Homo sapiens: one gene and its partners. The protein of the gene in region 1 interacts with the protein of each later gene in a biochemical or structural test. Each region holds a gene or a part of one and is shown on either strand. Other genes may lie near its edges.

Region 1 (7,024 bases):
AAAATCAGTTAATGAGACAAAAGGAAACGAAAGGTCAATAAATCAAGAGAAAGCAAAAAGGGCATTAAATTTTCACTGAAACTGGCAGGTTTTTATAAGGCTTCAGCTGACATAAAGAATGTGTGATGTGAACCCTCAGTACAGCTGCCAAGAATGACAGGTTTATAAGAACCAAACTGACTTCAAGTTGTTTCTCCTGTAATAACAGTAAATTTTGCTGCTATCGAAGTCAAGAATTGATTAAAATACAGGAATCTGTCACTATGTAACCTCTTTAGATATTCGAATACCAGTTTGCAGTCTAGAGGATTTAGTGAAATCATAAAGTGTCTACTCTCAGATTCGAGTCCATACTGATAGCATATTTCAAGAGTACTACATATTTCTCGCACTAAAATTCTTGGGAGGCCATAAAGGGTTTTGTCTGTCCTGTGTACAACTGACCAATAAGGGAAGGGAAGCAGTCTAGGCTTTAAATAGCTTCTGAGTGTCAGGGAAGGATAGCTCTCCTCAACTAGAACAATGAAATATCCTTTAAGGGAAAGGTAGAATGCCTCAGAGAGTTCAAAATAAAAGAATCCATTCTAACATGAAACTTACCAAGATGAGGAAGAAGTTATTAAAATCTTTCCTGTAAGATCAAAAGGTACTTTTCCTGTAAGTTCCTTCAACCTATCCTGGTAACTTGAAGCATTTTATTAGCAAAAATAAAAGGGGCAAACATTATCAAGCATTCCAAGCTTATCAGCTTTCCGTATAGGGCAAATCACTGGGAAGAACAGTAAATGTCATCACTCTGCAGGTGGCCAGGAATCGGAGTACTCCAGCCAGCCACAGCCACTGGAGTTCCAAGCCTTCCCAAAATAGCTATGACTTACATACAAATGCTCATCAAGTAGCTCACACACAGTCTCAAACGGAGAATGCTGAAATAGGGTCACTACTCAAACTGCGGCAGAGGTAAATGAAGATGCCACTGATTAATAGGCACATGGTCTTAAATGACTGAGCCACGACAAATTTAAATATGACTTCTCTCTCCCTTAAAATAGTCTCTTCTCTAAATCAATATGATAGTCTCCAAACTAAAATTTTCCCATGTTTTTAAATCACTGTGCTAAAAACAAATAGAACTGACCTCTGAAGCCAGAGAAAAATCTTGACACATTTCAATAGGCACTTGTGAACATCTAACAATATTTCCATTAGAAGTCAGTGCATGATACTTTCGTTTCGGAGCCCAGGACCTGGAAGTATCTTTTTCTACATGAGTTTTAAAAAGCGCATCCAGGCTGGGCGCCCTGGTTCACGCCTGTAATCCCAGCACTTTGGGAGGCCGAGGCGGGCGGATCATGAGGTCAAGAGACCGAGACCATCCTGGCCAACACAGTGAAATCCCATCTCTACTAAAAATACAAAAATTAGCTGGGCGTGGTGGCACGCGCCTGTAGTCCCAGCTACTCGGGAGGCTGAGGCAGGAGAATCGCTTGAACCCGGGAGACGGAAGTTGCAGTGAGCCGAGATCGCGCCACTGCACCCCAGCCTGGGCGACAAAGTGAGACTCCGTCTGGAAAAAAAAAAAAAAAAAAAGTGCGTCCAGACTGGGCGCGGTGGCTCACGCCTGTAATCCCAGCACTCTGGAAGGCCGAGGCGGGCGAATCACCTTAAGTCGGGAGTTTGAGACCAGCCTGACCAATATGGTGAAACCCCGACTCTACTAAAAATACAAAAATTAGCCGGGCCGGTGGCAAGCACCTGTAATACCAGCTACTCAGGAGGGTGAGGCGGAGGATGCAGTGAGCCGACATCGCGCCACAGCACTCCAGCCTAGGCAACAGAGGGAGACTCTGTCGAAAAAAAAAAAAAAAAAAAAAAAAAAGTGTCTCCATGCTAAATACTACTGGCCTTCCAGACAAAAGAGTAAAAAGGTATAAAAGGATTCTCACCTGAGGGTATCTGTCTGCCAGCTTTGTACGACAAATATAGTTTCTCATCTCCAAACTCGTATTTGAACAACTGGCACAGATTTCCCGTTTTCTCTTGAAAAAGTGCAGTACTTGAGGGGTGAGGAGGTGGTGTTAAGTTATAACATTCCGAAGTAACACTAGAAGACATGCTCAAATTGCCCTCTTCCCAAGTTTCTTCATACAGACATTAGCTTTTCTCTCAAACCAGGGTTCTTTCACTCTCACCAGATTCTTAGATCAGAAGTCCTTATATTGATTTCAATCTTCTTAGACATTGGGAACAGGAGATCATCATCAGTAGACTTTCTATTCATCACGCAGCTCCTCCCCCTCCTTAAAAATCTAGAGCGATGAAGGCAATAATTGGGGAGGCTGCGCTGTTTTGTTTTTAAAGCCGGGTTGGGAGGGAGGGAAGTGGTGGTAACTGGGACCCCTGGTCTTATAGAAGACGGTGATTAATTCCGGACTTTAAGTGAGATAACTTCGGTCTGCTTTAACCTTTTAAAAACGCCGCCATAAAACTGATTTAAAAGTCAAAGCAAAACAAAACCAACCAACGCTGCCGCTTTCGGAAGTTTCTCACCCCGGACGGGGCCCAGGAGGGCTCACCTTACTGATCCCTGCGGCGGAGAACCCCACGTCCAGCCCTTTATATTTGGTTTTCCAAAATCTGGAAATCCCCCTACAACTTCAGCTCGCCCACGGACGCGAAGATGCAGTCCTCAATCTCCGCGGCCCGAGCCCCGCAGAGCCCTTGGCCTTCTCACCCACGCTGGCGGGCGCACCCCCTGTCCCGCCCGGCCGGGGCGCCCTCCGCAGCCCGCAACCCGCAGCCCTGCAGGCCCCGCACGCTCCCCTCAGGGCCTGGAGCCCGCCCCCAGCTCCCGCTCGCCGCCGCGGAGCCCACCGAGCCGTGGCCGTCTGCCGCGCCGGCCGCGTCGTCCTGCTGCAGCTCCGCAGTCATGGCCGAGGCGCCCAGCCGCGGGTCACCGGTCTCCCGCCGCAGCCGCCGCCGGCCCAGCCTCTCAGGACTAGGCCCCGCCCCCGCCCTCCACCCCGCTCCGTCCCGCCCCCGCCCGCAGCGCGCGCCGGAGGCTTGGCCCACATGCCCCGCCCCCGGCATGCGCGCGCACGCAAGGCGCGCGGCCCGGGGCCGAACAGTTCTGCGTGCTCCCGCGCACGCCCGGCTGACCAGACGTCGGTCACGTGATCCCGGCCCCGCCTGTCGCTGTTGGTCAGCTTCACAGCCGGTGGAGGCTGCGGGCCGCGCTGCCAGTGTCCGGGAACTGGGTTTGCGAATCCTGGGAGCCGCGTTCCTGAGTCTTCTCCGCTCTCTGCCCTCAAAACCTCATTTGTAGGACTGACCTCCGGCTCCACCCTCCCCACGGGCGAGTTAAAACTGTTCCCCCGCCGTGGGAAACTGCCGAATGACCGTGGAATAAAGGATTTCCCATCAGGCTTTGTAGCCATTTCCAACTCCAATGACATGAAGAAGTGTTCACCATCTTTAAGGAGAGAAGGAGGATGAATGCAGTCGCTTGTCTAAAGCTAACCAAACGGACCAAAGCCTCCGTTCATGGGTGTCCCGCTTGGTGCCCTTAACCCTGATGCTCTTAACCTGGGCATGATAAGGAAAATTGCAGTTTTTCCATTTTCGATTTTCAGAAGTTCAAACTAAAATTTTGTGTTACTTTGTTACGTTTGAGCCAGATATTTACGATTTCATGTTAAAAGACCAGGTGCTCCTATTGAATTGTTTTTTGTTTGGTTGGTTTCGGTTTGTTTTTTTTTTTTTCTTTTTTTTTGAGACGGAGTCTCACTCTGTCCCCTCAAGCTGGAGTGCAGCCGCACGGTCTCGGCTCACTGCAACTTCCGCCTCCTGGGTTCAAGCGATTCTCCTGAGTAGCTGGGATTACAGGCACGCTGTACCACACCCAGGGTTTCACCATGTTGCCCAGGCTGGCCTCGAATTCCTGACCTCAGGTGATCCGCCCGTCTCGGCCTTCCATAATGCTGGGATTATAGGCGTGAGCCACCGCGCCAGGCCTGAATTGTATTTTCAACAACTGTGTGGGAATTGTGATTACTGAACCATGTTTCACATTTAAGATACAAATGTGTTATGATGGCAAACCCACTTGACAGGCTGCTGGGTGTCCCAAATCTGCGTAGAGGCTGAGTGTGGAAGCGCGTCTTTTAAGAGTAGCACCTACACCCTTGCCCTGGTCTGGTCTGACTCTCAAGCTACACTTTTAAGTGTGAATTTAACATGGACGGTGGCCTTTCCTATACTCCTGGCATTGTTGTCGCTGGGATTGTTATGTTTCACCTGCAGGCCTCCCTAGTCTGCATGCGGGCGCAGTTTTTGACAAAAGGAAACAGGTACAGGTCAGGTGCAGCTCCCAGGAGAGGCCAGATTACTCTCTGAGGCCTGAACTAGGACTCCTGCAACTTCCACCACCTGGAGATACAGGGATCCGCTTCCCCTGGCAGATTAACTGGCAGATTGGCATGGCTGCGGTGATACTAACTTGGAATCTTCCACATTCAACAGGCTGACTGTGTTTGTGTCTGCGAGTAGTAGGACATTTTATGTATGTGGCTCTGCCATTTTTCCTTTCCTCATGAGTGACTGTGTTTATGGCCTCAACCTGGGTGTCACTGTAGAACAGGTTGATTTCAGGTTGATGCTGGTTTTCTTTTTTTTTTTTTTTTTTTTTGAGACAGGGTCTCACTCTGTCACCCAGACTGAAATACAGTAGTGAGATCATGGCTCACTGCAGCCTTGAATTCCTGGGCTCAAGCAGTCCAACTGCCTCAGCCTCTGAAGCAGCAGGGACTTCATGCATGTGCCATGCCCAACTAATTTTTGTGTCTTTTTTATGGAGATGGGATCTCACTGTGTTGCCCAGGATGGTCTCAAACTTCTGGTCTCAAGCAATCCTCCTGCCTTGGCCTCCCAAAATTTGGGGATTACAGACATGAGTCACCACGCCCAGCCCACATTGATTTCTGAGTCTAGCTTATTTACAGCATTGCCTATTTCTACACTGCTAGAATGCTTTATTTACCATGTCTCTGGAGCAACCCTTATTTGTCTTTACACATTCATTTTAGGAAATTGCATGTTTATTGTGTGTAAGTGCTGTCAAAACCTATAATCCTTTGTATTAGTCTGTTCTCACACTGCCATAAAGAATTACCTGAGCCTGGGTAAGTTATGAAGAAAAGAGGTTTGACTCAGGGGCATAACAGGAAGCAAGACTGGGAGGCCTCAGGAAACGTACAATCGTGGTGGAAGGCAAAGGGGAAGCAGGCATGTCTCACCATGGCAGAGTAGGAGAGATAGAACAAAAGAAGTGTCCCCCCCGACCCCCCGCACACACACACACACAAAGATCTCATAAGAACTCACTATCATGAGAAATGCATGGGGGAAATCCACCCCATAATCTAATCATGTCCCACCAGGTCCCTCCCCTGGCAAGTGGGAATACAATTCGACATGAGATTTGGGTGGGGACCCAGAGCCAAACCATATTACCCTTATTCATTAAAATTTTCTTTTTTTTTTTTTTTTTTTGAGACGGGGTATCGTTCTGTCGCCCAGGCTGGAGTGCAGTGGTGTGATCTCAGCTCCCTGAAACCTCTGCCTCCCGGGTTCAAGCAGCTCTCCTGCCTCAGACTCCCGAGGGACTACAGGCGCCTCAGACTCCCCTGGGACTAAGGCATGCACCACCACGCCTGGCTAATTTTTAGTAGAGACAGGGTTTCACCATGTTGGCCAGGCTGGTCTCCAACTCTTAACCTTGTGATCCACCTGCCTCTGCCTCCCAAAGTGCTGGGATTACAGGCATGAGCCACCGTGCCCAACCTTCATTAAAATTTTCTTAAAAGACCAGCAGACCTAGGCCAATCACAGGTTCATGCCTGTAATCCCAGCAGTTTAGGAGGCTGAGGTGGGCAGATCACATGAGCTCAGGAGTTGGAGACTACCCTGGGCAATGTGGCAAAACTCCATCTATACAGGAAATACCAAAAAAAAAAAAAAAGTATTAGTCCGTTTTCACGCTGCTGATGAAGACATATCCAAGACTGGGCAATTTACAGAAGAAAGAGGTTTAATTGGACTCACAGTTCCACATGGCTGGGGAGGCCTCAGAATCATGGCGGGAGGTGAAAGGCTCTTCTTACATGGCAGCAGCAAGAGAAAATGAGGAAGAAGCAAAAGTGGAAACCTCTGATAAACCCGTTGGATCTCATGAGACTTATTCACAATCACAAAAATAGCACGGGAAGACCGGCCCTCATGATTCAATTACCTCCCCATGCGTACCACCCACAAACACGTGGGAATTCTGGGAGATAAAATTCAAGTTGAGATTTGGGTGAGGGCACGGCCAAACCATATCATTCCACCTCTGGCCCCTCAAAATCTCAGGTCCTCACATTTCAAAAGCAATCATGCCTTCCCAACAGCCTCTCAAAGTCTTAACTCATTTCAGCATTAACCCAAAAGTCCGCAGTCCAAAGTCTCATCTGAGACAAGGCAAGTCCTTTCTGCCTATGAACCTGTAAAATTAAAAGCAAGCTAGTTATTTCCTAGATACAATGGGGGTACAGGTATTGGGTAAATACAGCAGTTCCCAATGGGAGAAATTGGCCAAAACAAAGGGGTTACAAGGCCCAAGGAAGTCCAAAATCCAGCGAGGCCGTCAAATTGTAAAGCTCTAAAATGATCTCCTTTGACTCCAGCTCTCACATCCAGGTCACACTGATGCAAAAGGTGGGTTCCCATGGTCTTGGGCAGCTCTGCCCCTGTGGCTTTGCAGGGTACAGTCTCCCTCTTGGCTGCTTTCATGGGCTGGCATTGAGTGTCTGCAGCTTTTCCGGGCACACAGTGCAAGCTGTCGGTGGACCCACCATTCTGGGCTCTGGAGGACAGTGACCCTCTTCTCACAGCTCCACTAGGCAGTGCCCCATTAGGGACTCTGTGTGGGGGCTCCGACCCCACATTTCCCTTCCATGCTGCCCTAGTAGAGGTTCTCCATGAGGGC
Region 2 (7,035 bases), on another chromosome or scaffold:
AGTAGCTGGGACCACAGGCATGTGCCACTACAGCCAGTTGGTTTTTTTTTTTAAGTTTTCTTTTGTAGAGTTGGGGTCTCACTATGTTGACTGGGCTGGTTTTGAACTTCTAGCCTCAAATGATCCTCCCCGCTTGTCCTCCCAAAGTGCTGGAATTACAGGCATGAGCCACTGTGTTAGGCCCATAATTCTTAATTATCTTAAGGATTCTGCCTGAGCTTTGGCAGAGCTAGGATTCTGTTTACATGCTAGTTTGAGAAATACTTGCCTTATTGGATGTGTTTAAACTGTTTTTTTTTTTTGTTTTCTTATAGACAGTTCAAGAAGAAGAAAGAGAGATTTACAGACAGCTGCTACAGATGGTCACAGGGAAACAGTTTACTATAGCCAAACCCACCACACATTTTCCTTTACACCTGTGAGTCACAGAAGCATATTTCAGATGAATTTAATTCTACAATTTATTACTTGATATTGAAACAATATTCTTCTCTTGCTAGGTCTCGATGTCTTAGTTCCAGTAAAAATACTTTGAAAGACTCACTGTTTAAAAATGGAAACTCTTGTGCATCTCAGATCATTGGCTCTGATACTTCATCATCTGGATCTGCCAGCATTTTAACTAACCAGGAACAGCTGTCCCACAGTGTATATTCCCTATCTTCTTATACCCCAGATGTTGCATTTGGATCCAAAGATTCTGGTACTCTTCATCATCCCCATCATCACCACTCTGTTCCACATCAGCCAGATAACTTAGCAGCTTCAAATACACAATCTGAAGGTAAACATGGTATCATATAACTACATTTTTAGTCCTAATAGCCAATTAACTGTTCATTAGCTCATTACAGGCAACATTGTAATATACATATAAATAAATGAGCATACCGAATCTGAAAATATGAAGTCCGAAATGTTCCAAAATCTGAAACTTTTTGAATACCAACATGATACTCAGGAAATGCTCAGTGGAGCATTTGGGATTTTGGATGTTTGGATTTGGGATGCTCAAATTGTATAATGCAAATATTCAAAAGTCCAAAAAATCCAAAATTTGAAACTCCTGGTCCCAACCATTTTGGATAAGGGATACTGAACTTGTAAGACATGTACTTACATACTTTAAATACATATGATTCAGTTAACCATGCTGTGAGTAAACTAAATCCACAAATAGGATATTCTTTTTTTCTTACCTCAAGATGCAAATGATTTGATACATTTTATTTAAACAACTTCCTAAGTACAGGCTAGAGTCAAAGTATATATACTCAGCCCAATTGCTTCAGCACTTTCTCTGTTTCTATGACTTTACAGTGGTAAGTAAGAATTCTGAAGTTGTAGGAGTTTTGAAACATCAGATAAATACTGAAGCTTAAGTACTTAGGTTTGTGCGTTTTAGAATGATTGTCAGCATTGGAAGCAAAAAGTTTTCTACGTAACTTTCAACTAACTGAAATATTCACTCTCTTTGCATTCCAGTTAATTAAGGTTTTGTCGTGATAGGTTTGTTTCCTTAATTTCCCCCTTCTTTAGGTATGTATTATGTATCAATTTATGGTATGTACTTAGGTATGCAACTTAAAACAAGTTATAGGTTAAATGGTTAAACATCAGGGATTTTTTGATAGATGGAGCACTAGTCTTTCCCCTCCTTTCTCAGGTTGTTTGAGGTTTTTTTTTTAATCTATTTGTACTTTGTGAAAATTCTCACTCAGGATTAAACTTTTTGGTAGCATCATTGTATAGCTACACATATCCATGAAGACTCTTGTTATATTTTGTGAGGTGATGTACTGAGAACTGTAAAGGAAAAAAAAAAGCCAAAAAACCCAAACTCCTTTAACCTCAGAAACATACATTGTGTTGCAGATACTTAGATACAACTAAGTTGAAACAAATATACTACATTGCACTGTTTAATTACTTTCCTTGTACCATGTAATAAATACTCTGAGGTTCTAATGACAGCACTTTAGAAGAACATGATTCCTGCCTTTGAGTAGTATTCAACAGAGAAAATACATAATAGAATGATAAAATTTGTACTTTTTAGACACCTCCTGGGGTGCTATTTCCTTCCCTGTCCCCCTTCCCTCCTTCTTCCAGTTTCTTTCCCTCTTCCATTCCCCCACCCCTTCTTTCACCTAATTCAGTCGCATTGTAGATCATGAACTACAGTAGTTCCCCCTTATCTGTGGGGGGAGGATATGTTCCAAGACCCGCCCCCCACCAGTGGATGCTTGAAACCATGGAGAGTATACTATATATACCATACCCTATATACATCATGTTTTTTCCTATACATACATACTAATGATTATAAATTAGGTGCAGTAAGAGATCAACAATAATAACTAATAACAAAAATTATAACAATATACTGTAATGAAGATGTTACTTTTTTCTTATTAAATCAAAAACTTTAACCTTTTCACTTAAAGGAAGTAGTGTTTTTTGTTTTTGTTTTTGTTTTTGTTTGTTTTTGAGACTGAGTGTCACTCTGTTGCTCAGGCTGGAGTACAGTGGGACCATCTTGGTTCACTGCAACCTCGCATGTCCTGGGTTCAAGCGATTCTGCTGCCTCAGCCTCCTGAGTAGCTGGGATTACAGGTGTGAGCCATTATGCCCAGCTAATTTTTGTATTCTTAGCAGAGACAGGTTTCACCATGTTGGCCAGGCTGGGGAAGCACTTTTTACGGCTTCTCTTTGGCATACCTGAATTGCCAACATCATTACTTTTGCCTTTTGGGGACATTATTAAGTAAGGGTTACTGAACACAAGCACTGCTATACTGAGACAGTCAATTGGATGACTGAGGTGACTACTAAATGACAGGTGGTGCATACAACATGGATATGCTGGACAAAGGGATGATTTCATGCCTGAAATAGAGCTGGATAGAGATTTTTATCACATTACTTGGAATGGCATGCAATTTAAAATTTACTAATTATTTCTGGAATTTTCCATTTAATATATTTGGACCGCAGTTAACTATGCGTAACTGAAACCATAGAAACCAAAATTGCAGATAGAGGACTACCATGAAGACTTTTAAGGAATCCTGCCATGTTCTTGTTCTCCTGAAACAGACAGGAAGCACAGGGAGCAAGTGCAGCCTAGGAGGAAATTCTGAAGGGCAAATATGTTTGTTATTTCCCAGGGATTTTCTTATTTGTGAAGCAAATTCTTCACTAAGACCTATTTCTGTTCTCAGTGACAATGGACTTGCCTCTCTCTCTCTCCCATCTAACCTTTGTTCTTATGTTATTTTTGTGGAAATAAAATATAGCAAAGTATGGGAACTTAAACTAAGATATCTAGAAAGTATAACTTTGTGGAGTTTTATTACTAATGAAATGCTCTTGTGTTTCTTTAGGATCAGACTCTGTGATTTTACTGAAAGTGAAAGATTCCCAGACTCCAACTCCCAGGTAAACTTTGGAAAAAGCTTGTTCTTTATTAATTAATTAATATATCTTTTTGAGACGGAGTCTCGCTCTGTTGCCCAGGCTGGAGTGTAGTGGCGCGATCTTGGTTCACTGCAACCTCCACCTCCCTGGTTCAAGCAATTCTTCTGCCTCAGCCTCCCGAGTAGCTAGGATTACAGGCGCCCGCCACCACGCCCAGCTAATTTTTGTATTTTTAGTAGAGATGGGGTTTTGCTGTGTTGGCCAGGCTGGTCTCGAACTCCTGACCTCAAGTGATCCACCTGCCTCGGCCTCCCAAAGTGCTGGGATTACAGGCGTGAGCCACCATGCCTGGCCTAAAAGTTTCTTCTTAACATATTGTTTTCCCTTTCTTTAATCACAGCTTTTTCACTAAAAGTTACATAATGTAAAACTACCTCAATTCAGACCTTTCTCACGTATTACTTGAATTATTTTAGTGGCTTTATAATTGTTCTTCCTTCAGCCTCTATTTTGTTCTTCATTCCGTCTTCCACCATACCATGTTCTTGAAACAATTTTTCTGCCTTGCTCTTTTTTCATTTGTTTTTGTTTTTGTTTTTGTTTTGAGACAGGGTCTTGCTCTGTCACCCAGGCAAGAGTGCAGTGGCACAATCATGGCTCACTGGAGCTTTGAACTCCTGGGCTCAAGTGATCCTCTTGCCTCAGCTGGGACCACATATGCATGCCACCATACTTGGCTAACTTTTAAATTTTTCTTTTGTAGAGACGGGATCTTGCTATGTTGACCAGGCTGGTTTTGTACTCCTAGCCTCAAGCGATCCTCCTAACTTGGCCTTCCAAAGTGCTGGGATCGTAGGTGTGAGCCACTGCACCCGGCCTGCTGTGTTCTTTAGTCCATCTTCCATGCTGCAATCAGAGTGATCTTTCAGAATTCATGTCTGATCATTCATTAAAGGGGTTTAATGATTATTTGTTAACCTCCTTCAAGGGTGGTTTATCAGACATTGAATTAAGCTCAGGCTCCTTACTATGGTATACAAAGCACTTCTTTCACAAGCCTCACTTTCTCACTTTTAACAAATATTTACTGAGAGCCTACTGTGTGCCAGGTACTAGTATAAATATTGAGGATAATAGGGAACAATGTGAAGTCCCTATTCTCAAGGAGCTTGCATTCTACTTGAGGGGAAGGATGAAGGACAATGTGAAGTCCCTATGCTCAAGGAGCTTGCATTCTACTTGAGGGGAAGGATAAACAAATGTATATGCCTTGTGATAAGTGCTATGAAGAAAATTGAAGCAGGGTAATATATAGAGTAGGATTGGGAGGATACTATTTGTATAGGGTGGTCATGGAAAGTCTCTGATAAAGTGACTTGAGCAGAGACATGATGGAGGTAAGAGGGAGCCATATGGAAATATGGGACTCTTTCATGTGTTTTTATAAGCTGGACTATTTTCAGTTTGCAAATACAATAAGCATTTCTTACCTTCACATTCAGTGTTCTTTTTGCCTGGAATGTCCTCCGTACCTCAACTTTGTCTGTCAGTAGTGTTTTATCTTTTAGGTCTCAACTCACATGTGAACTTCTGCATGAAACTTTACTTATCTGGAGGTATCAAATACTTCTTCCTCTGTAATACAGTAATAGTAATCCATAGTAACCATTACTATGATTGCTATGCCTTTGCCATATATGGCTTTGGGAATTCAATTGCTAGGATGAGAATAATATCAGTTTTCCGTTGAGAAGATTAAGAGTAATGAAATATTCTTTCTCATCTCAGTTCCCCTACTTCTTTGCAGCTCCCCATATGTTCTAAGCTTTAAATATTTCTTAAAATTCTCTATTTGTTAAGTCTTTTGGGGAGACTTCATAGTTTGGATTCTTTATTTCTTACATCTTTTTTGGAGTCAGATCTGCCTTCTGATCTTGGGTTGGAAAAGGCTTCATGTAGCTTTGGACAAGTTACTCTTATGAACCTCAGTTTCCTTATCAATAAAATGCCAGTATTGATACCTTACACTTAATTGTGAAGATTAACTTACAGATAAAACACTTATTTTTATAAGTGCTTCACATGAAATGCCACAAGATGCATGCAACTTTCTTGGGAAGAAGTTGATCTCTCAGGTAAAGAGTTGATCTCAGTTCCTTAATGGTTCTTTACTAAGACTGCCTTTCCTTTACGGAGGATTTCCCCTAGTGATGACTAAAGAATGAGATGGCAGGAGAAATGGTCTGTTGGGTAAGGCTGTTTGAGCAATGCTCTTTGTCAAAGTTGGTGCCTACTCTGCTGAGGCTTGGTTTATTGGCTCTCTACTCTTAATTCTCCACTACTGCCTCTCAGTTAAGTTCCAGTAATGAAGATCTGCTTTTATTTCCCAGAATATGCTATGCTGTGTCATACCTCTTTGCCTTTATACATTCTGATCCTTCTGTCTGGATGTCCCTTTCTCTCTCTGTCTACTTGGTAAGCTCTTATTTTGCTTCCTTTTCTTTCTTTCTTTTTTTTTTTTTTTTTTTTTTTTTTGTGACAGAGTCTTGCTCTATCATCCAGGCTGGAGTGCAGTGGCACAATCTCTGCTCACTGCAACCTCCGCCTCCCGGGTTCAAGTGATTCTCGTGCCTTACCCTCCAGGGTAGCTGGGATTACAGGCATATGCCACCACACCCAGCTAATTTTTGTATTTTTAGTGGAGATTGGGTTTCACCATGTTGGCCAAGCTGGTCTCGAACTCCTGACCTCCGGTGTTCCACCCACCTCAGCCTCCCAAAGTGCTGGGATTACAGGCATGAGCCACTGTGCCTGGCCTTAATTTTGCTTTTCAAAATCTCATCCAGGTGTTATTTTTTTTTTCTCAGAAGATTTCTTTGACTTTGCCAGATAATGTTAGTTTTTCCCTCCATCCTTCTACCTTGTTTGTTACTAATACTTTTGTATCTGTCACCCATTGCTGGTCATAGTGCTTGGCATATGATGGGTGCTCAGTAAATAAATCTTTGTTAAACAAATGAATTTCCTAGATAGCCTGAAGTGCTCTCTTGAGTAGCCCAAGTACTTATTCCTCCCCCGCTTTTTTTTAATGCTTTCATCTATTGAAAGGCACAGTCGAAAGAACACAGTCTTTGGAATTGGACAGATAAGATTTCTAATCCTAGCCTTTCAAGAGAAATTATCTTTTTGAACCTCCTTTTTCATTTCTGTACAGTATGAGTAATAATTCTTTTTTATATATTATGTTGAGGTTTAAATAGTATAGGGATTTTCATTAGGCTTAACTAATACATAAAACATCTAGAGCAGAGTTTTACATGTAGAGCACTAAGTATGTGCTCAAAAACATTTGCAGTTATTATTACTATATGCCTCAATTATATGAGAAATAATGCATCTCTTTGGAAAAGCAGATTTTCCCTGCATTTTGTTTTCCGGAGCCAGTGGATACCTTGATCCATTGAAGAAAACTGCTTGTCCCTACATTACTTGTTTATTCAAGAAATACTATATGGCTGGGCATGGTGGCTCATGCCTGTAATCCTAGCACTTTGGGAAGGCCAAGGTGGATGGATCACCGGAGGTCATGAGTTCGAGACCAGCCTGGCCAACATG
Region 3 (4,320 bases), on another chromosome or scaffold:
CTCCACTAAAAAATACAAATATAGCCAGGTGTGGTGGTGCACACCCATAATCCCAGCTACTCGGGAGGCTGAGGCAGGAGAACTGCATGAACCCAGGAGGTGGAGGCTGCAGTGAGCCAAGATCGCAGCACTGCACTCCAGCCTGGGTGACAGAGTGAGACTCCATCTCAAAAACAAACAAAGAAAAACAAACAGAATGAAAAATAAAACAAAGAAAACAAAACAAAGAAAAACAAAAAGAATGAGTAGAATATTTTATGAGTTCACATGGCACCCAAACTTAAACTCTAATTAAGAACCACTTTGAGAAACAGCACCAACTGGTGGTTAAAAAATCACTTACAGCACTTACTCTATGTACATGAACTGCATTACTTATGAAGCATTATAATCAAACTCAGGTTAAATAGCTTTTAGTAAATTTAAAGTGGACAGAAATGGAATTCAATGGCAAACAAAATCCTCAGACAGATCATTTGCTTAAATTCGACATAGCATGAACCCCACTTTTTGAATTTTGGCAATAAAACTAGTTTTATTTCATTAGCTTTACTCATATAAAAATGCTTCCCACTTTTCAGTAAATGGCACATATTTATAACTTCCAAGATGCCCTTATAAAGATTACCTAAAATAATACACAGAAACCCAAAACACATAAAAAACCTGCAAGTATTATCTATTATATACTAACTAAATATAAATCTTTATACATCTATTATACATTTTCAATTTTTCCTTAGTTATTATTCCAACAGATATAAACAATGCTGGGATCAACATACTTGCAAATGTGCCAACAAATATGCCAGAATATATAGGACATGGCATTTCAAAATTCCCACTCCAATTCTTAACTTAAGTCAACTTTAGTCATTTCTCCACTTTTTATTTCTATCATTAGAATAGCTGGGTGAATCTCAAACACAAGTGAATAAATAGTAGAAATTCAGTCAAGTAATATTAAGGCTAATGTAATTAAATTTTCATGTTGTACTTTTTTAAAGAAACAGAGCAGCTGCCAACTTTTCAGCTGAGAACAAATTTCTATAGTTCTTATTTTATAAATTATTTCTCAGCATTCTATATGGACTTTAACCAGACAAACCAATAATTTCTTTATTAAGAATCTTTTTTTAAAAAGTATGTGTATATGAAGGGCTTTAATAAACTTCCAAAAAAATTAAAAATAAAAAATTTAAAAAGACTTATCTTACTCATAATTTTGCATTTAAACAAGCAATTTCAAAACACAAAGTTTACAGCTACTTTCTAAGCCATTAATTTGACTAGCTTTTATAAATAATTGTTGTATTTGTAATATTATAAAATATACTGCTAGTCTCAAAAAATTTTATATACTTTAGTTCAACAAATATTCCTCCCCACCCCTCCAAAAAAGAACAATGTAATCACTTTAATTTTTGTTAGCAGTCAGAAAAATTTTTATTTAGGAAAAATATTCCCTCAATATTTATTAGATAATGAATCTTATTTAAATGAATAGTTTACTTTTACTTTTCTGTGTAGACCAATTTAAAAGTATGCCACTTTCCTTTCATAAGCAAACTGTATTTGTCTCATTCTACATGGCAGATCAAAAATTAATACTTCTTTCTGCCTTAAAAATTATGAGATTTTCCTCATTATGAATTAGTTGTTTTTATATGGATTACTGTTGTGCTGCTAAAAACAAATGTTAGTAAAAGTTATGGAGACATGGGAAAAAAACAAACTATAATACTAGTTAATAATGAAATACATTAAACATTGTTTAAATATTAAACAGTAAAATACTCCTATATTAAATAAATAATTAAAAATTGCATTTGTCAATGGGAATATAGGCCAATACCACCAATAAAAGGGATGGTCTAGTGCAAAGGGTGGCCACAAAACAACAACAACAACAAAAAATCAAAAACCACACATACATACAGAAAAGAAGGAAGAGGAAACACATTTAATACTGGTACTGTTTTCAATAACAAATTAAACCAGTGATTCTGAATCCTTCCTGCACATTCAAATTACCTGGAGAACTTTAAAAAAAATACTGATGACCAGGTCTTGTCTCAAATTACATGAAAATGGGAATCAAGATTCAGGCATGGATATTTTTAAAAACTCTCCAAATGATTCTAAAATGCAGTCAGGGTTGAGAGCAACTGATTGAAACCTACATATTTCTTACTGTTCCTTGACTGAGAAGAATGTCCTATAAATATAGAAATAGAACTTTTTCCTTTACAGGTTGGGCATACAAGGGTATCTCCAGTTAGCAGTAACTTATGGAGGGGTAAGTCAAGTTATTAATTTATACTTCATTTCCATTAAAATATCTACTTATACCTCTCTTCATTCCCTGTAATTCTGTACTCTCAAACTCCAAGACCAAGAAGAGTCGAACTACACTTTTATAATAAATTTGTTACACTGAAAATACATTATTCATTCATGCATGTAAGTATTTACTGAATGCCTACTATGTGCAAGGCACTGTGTTAAGTACTGCTATATAGGACCATGTCATGGGAGAATAAATGGGAGTGGCTGAAAATTTTTGTTTTTTAGAATAAACAGCTAAAAAATAATGGAATGAAATTAATTACATGGACCTAAATAAGAGACTAAATTGTCAAAGAGGAAAAGAAAAAGAGGTGCTTATACTAAGGGTCTGATTTTAAGATAGATGGTTATAGCCTATTTGTCCTTTTCCTAATGTTCCTTTACAGTATTTCCATAAGCCTTTGAATATACATAAGGCAAATTCAAAATAGAAAAATAAACCTCATTCAAAGTAGATGTTCCTAATTTTAACCATATTCTGTCTCAAGTAAAGTTCATAAATAAGTACAAATACCAAAAATCTTTATGGGAAGGTAGTTCATACTGACTTGTAGTAGTCTTGACAAGTAATCTTACATAAAAATATTACAGATTCTGGTCCTTGACTATTTCATCATGGAGAAAGTTTACACAACATGTAATTTATTTTGGAAATATATTTATATGCTAAGAAAGCCTAATGTAAACAAATTTGAGTTTTCTTTTATCTTTAAGGAAAGAAGACGCTAAAAAGGGAGGAAAATAGGGGTAGAATCTGTTCAAACCTTGTTAAGTATGCTAAAATCTAGTAATTTAAAATGCTGACTGTTCCCTTCTGAAGAGCCTTGTAAATATCATGTGAATAAATATCTTTTCTAGTTACTAGTGGTATGAACTATGTGATCACTTAAAAAATAATAACTTCTCATTTTTGTGACAGTGTTAAATTTCATTAAGAAGCTAGATAATGTCAGCTTAATACCTATGAAAGGCCTAAACGTTCACCAAAAATATGTTAACCTAGGAGAAAATTGCTGGGAATAAAAACAGAGAAAAAAATGACATAAGACTGTGATCAGCAAAAATTCCAATGGCAAAAACACTTTAGGAAAGTAAAGCTTCCTAGTTGCCTTTAAGGAAAAAAAAAAAACAAAGTGAAATCAAGGTTCAAGGCAAATGGTCACTTGATGTACCTTGGATGCAACATTTTGTCTGAAGTAGAGAAATAGTAAAATATTTCACTAAGTTAAAATATAGTTTTTATATTTTATACCATATTGAATACAGACATAAAAATACCAGTGTTTTTCTCTTGTTTCTTTTCAGACAATTAAGCAAATGTTTTCTTTGGTGCCTGGGAGTTTATCAATATTTAGGGATAATGGAAGATAAGAACTCCAAGACTGACAAGCCTAAAATAGAAGATTCAAAATCCTATACCATAAAAATTACAATCAAAAGTGGACTAAAGAGAAAAGGAGCTTAAAGTTATACTGCAATAGGGCTGATACATATTCTTCCCCCAAATCATACTCTGGCTCCCAAAATAAAAAATACTACAGCCTATTGTGGTTTTAATCTGTGTTTTGAGATTTTTTTCAAATGGAAAGATATTACAGATAGAAACACATCATTCTAGGTTTCAAAATCACCAAAGTCAGTGAGAAGAATGTACATTCATTTAAATGTAATCATTTGTAAATAAAGAAATCTTGAAAAGGCTGAACAGTTCAATCAAATTGAAGAATTGATCTAGATTTTTCATTATTCTTTTTAAATAATGAGTAAGTGTAGATATAGTGTACATACAAGTTGACATTCTGATTCATTCAAAATAGTCACATCCCTTTGCTTGGTTTTGGATGTTCCAGAGACTAAAATTTAATACCATTCATAACATAGTATTTTCAGTAAAAAGAATTATAGAGCAATGAAAAATCAGAAGATGGCTCAGAGAGCCTTATAATCTCTAAATATACACACATTTATAAC

What was found.
Region 2: the proteins of USP28 (region 1) and SENP1 form a complex in vitro, tested with the Homo sapiens proteins (one study listed by BioGRID).
Region 3: the proteins of USP28 (region 1) and CDC73 form a complex in vitro, tested with the Homo sapiens proteins (one study listed by BioGRID).

Annotation. Positions count from the first base shown.
Region 1 is NC_000011.10:113,872,571-113,879,594, forward strand, and holds the start of USP28 (ubiquitin carboxyl-terminal hydrolase 28), read right to left. Parts: upstream 3,003-7,024; 5' UTR 2,932-3,002; coding exon 2,875-2,931; intron 2,310-2,874; exon of another isoform or gene 1,995-2,309; coding exon of another isoform or gene 1,947-1,994; intron 1-1,946. UniProt on the Homo sapiens protein: Deubiquitinase involved in DNA damage response checkpoint and MYC proto-oncogene stability. Involved in DNA damage induced apoptosis by specifically deubiquitinating proteins of the DNA damage pathway such as CLSPN.
Region 2 is NC_000012.12:48,068,073-48,075,107, reverse strand, and holds part of SENP1 (sentrin-specific protease 1), read left to right. Parts: intron 1-314; coding exon 315-418; intron 419-500; coding exon 501-784; intron 785-3,386; coding exon 3,387-3,441; intron 3,442-7,035. UniProt on the Homo sapiens protein: Protease that catalyzes two essential functions in the SUMO pathway.
Region 3 is NC_000001.11:193,251,003-193,255,322, reverse strand, and holds the end of CDC73 (parafibromin), read right to left. Parts: 3' UTR 508-4,320; downstream 1-507.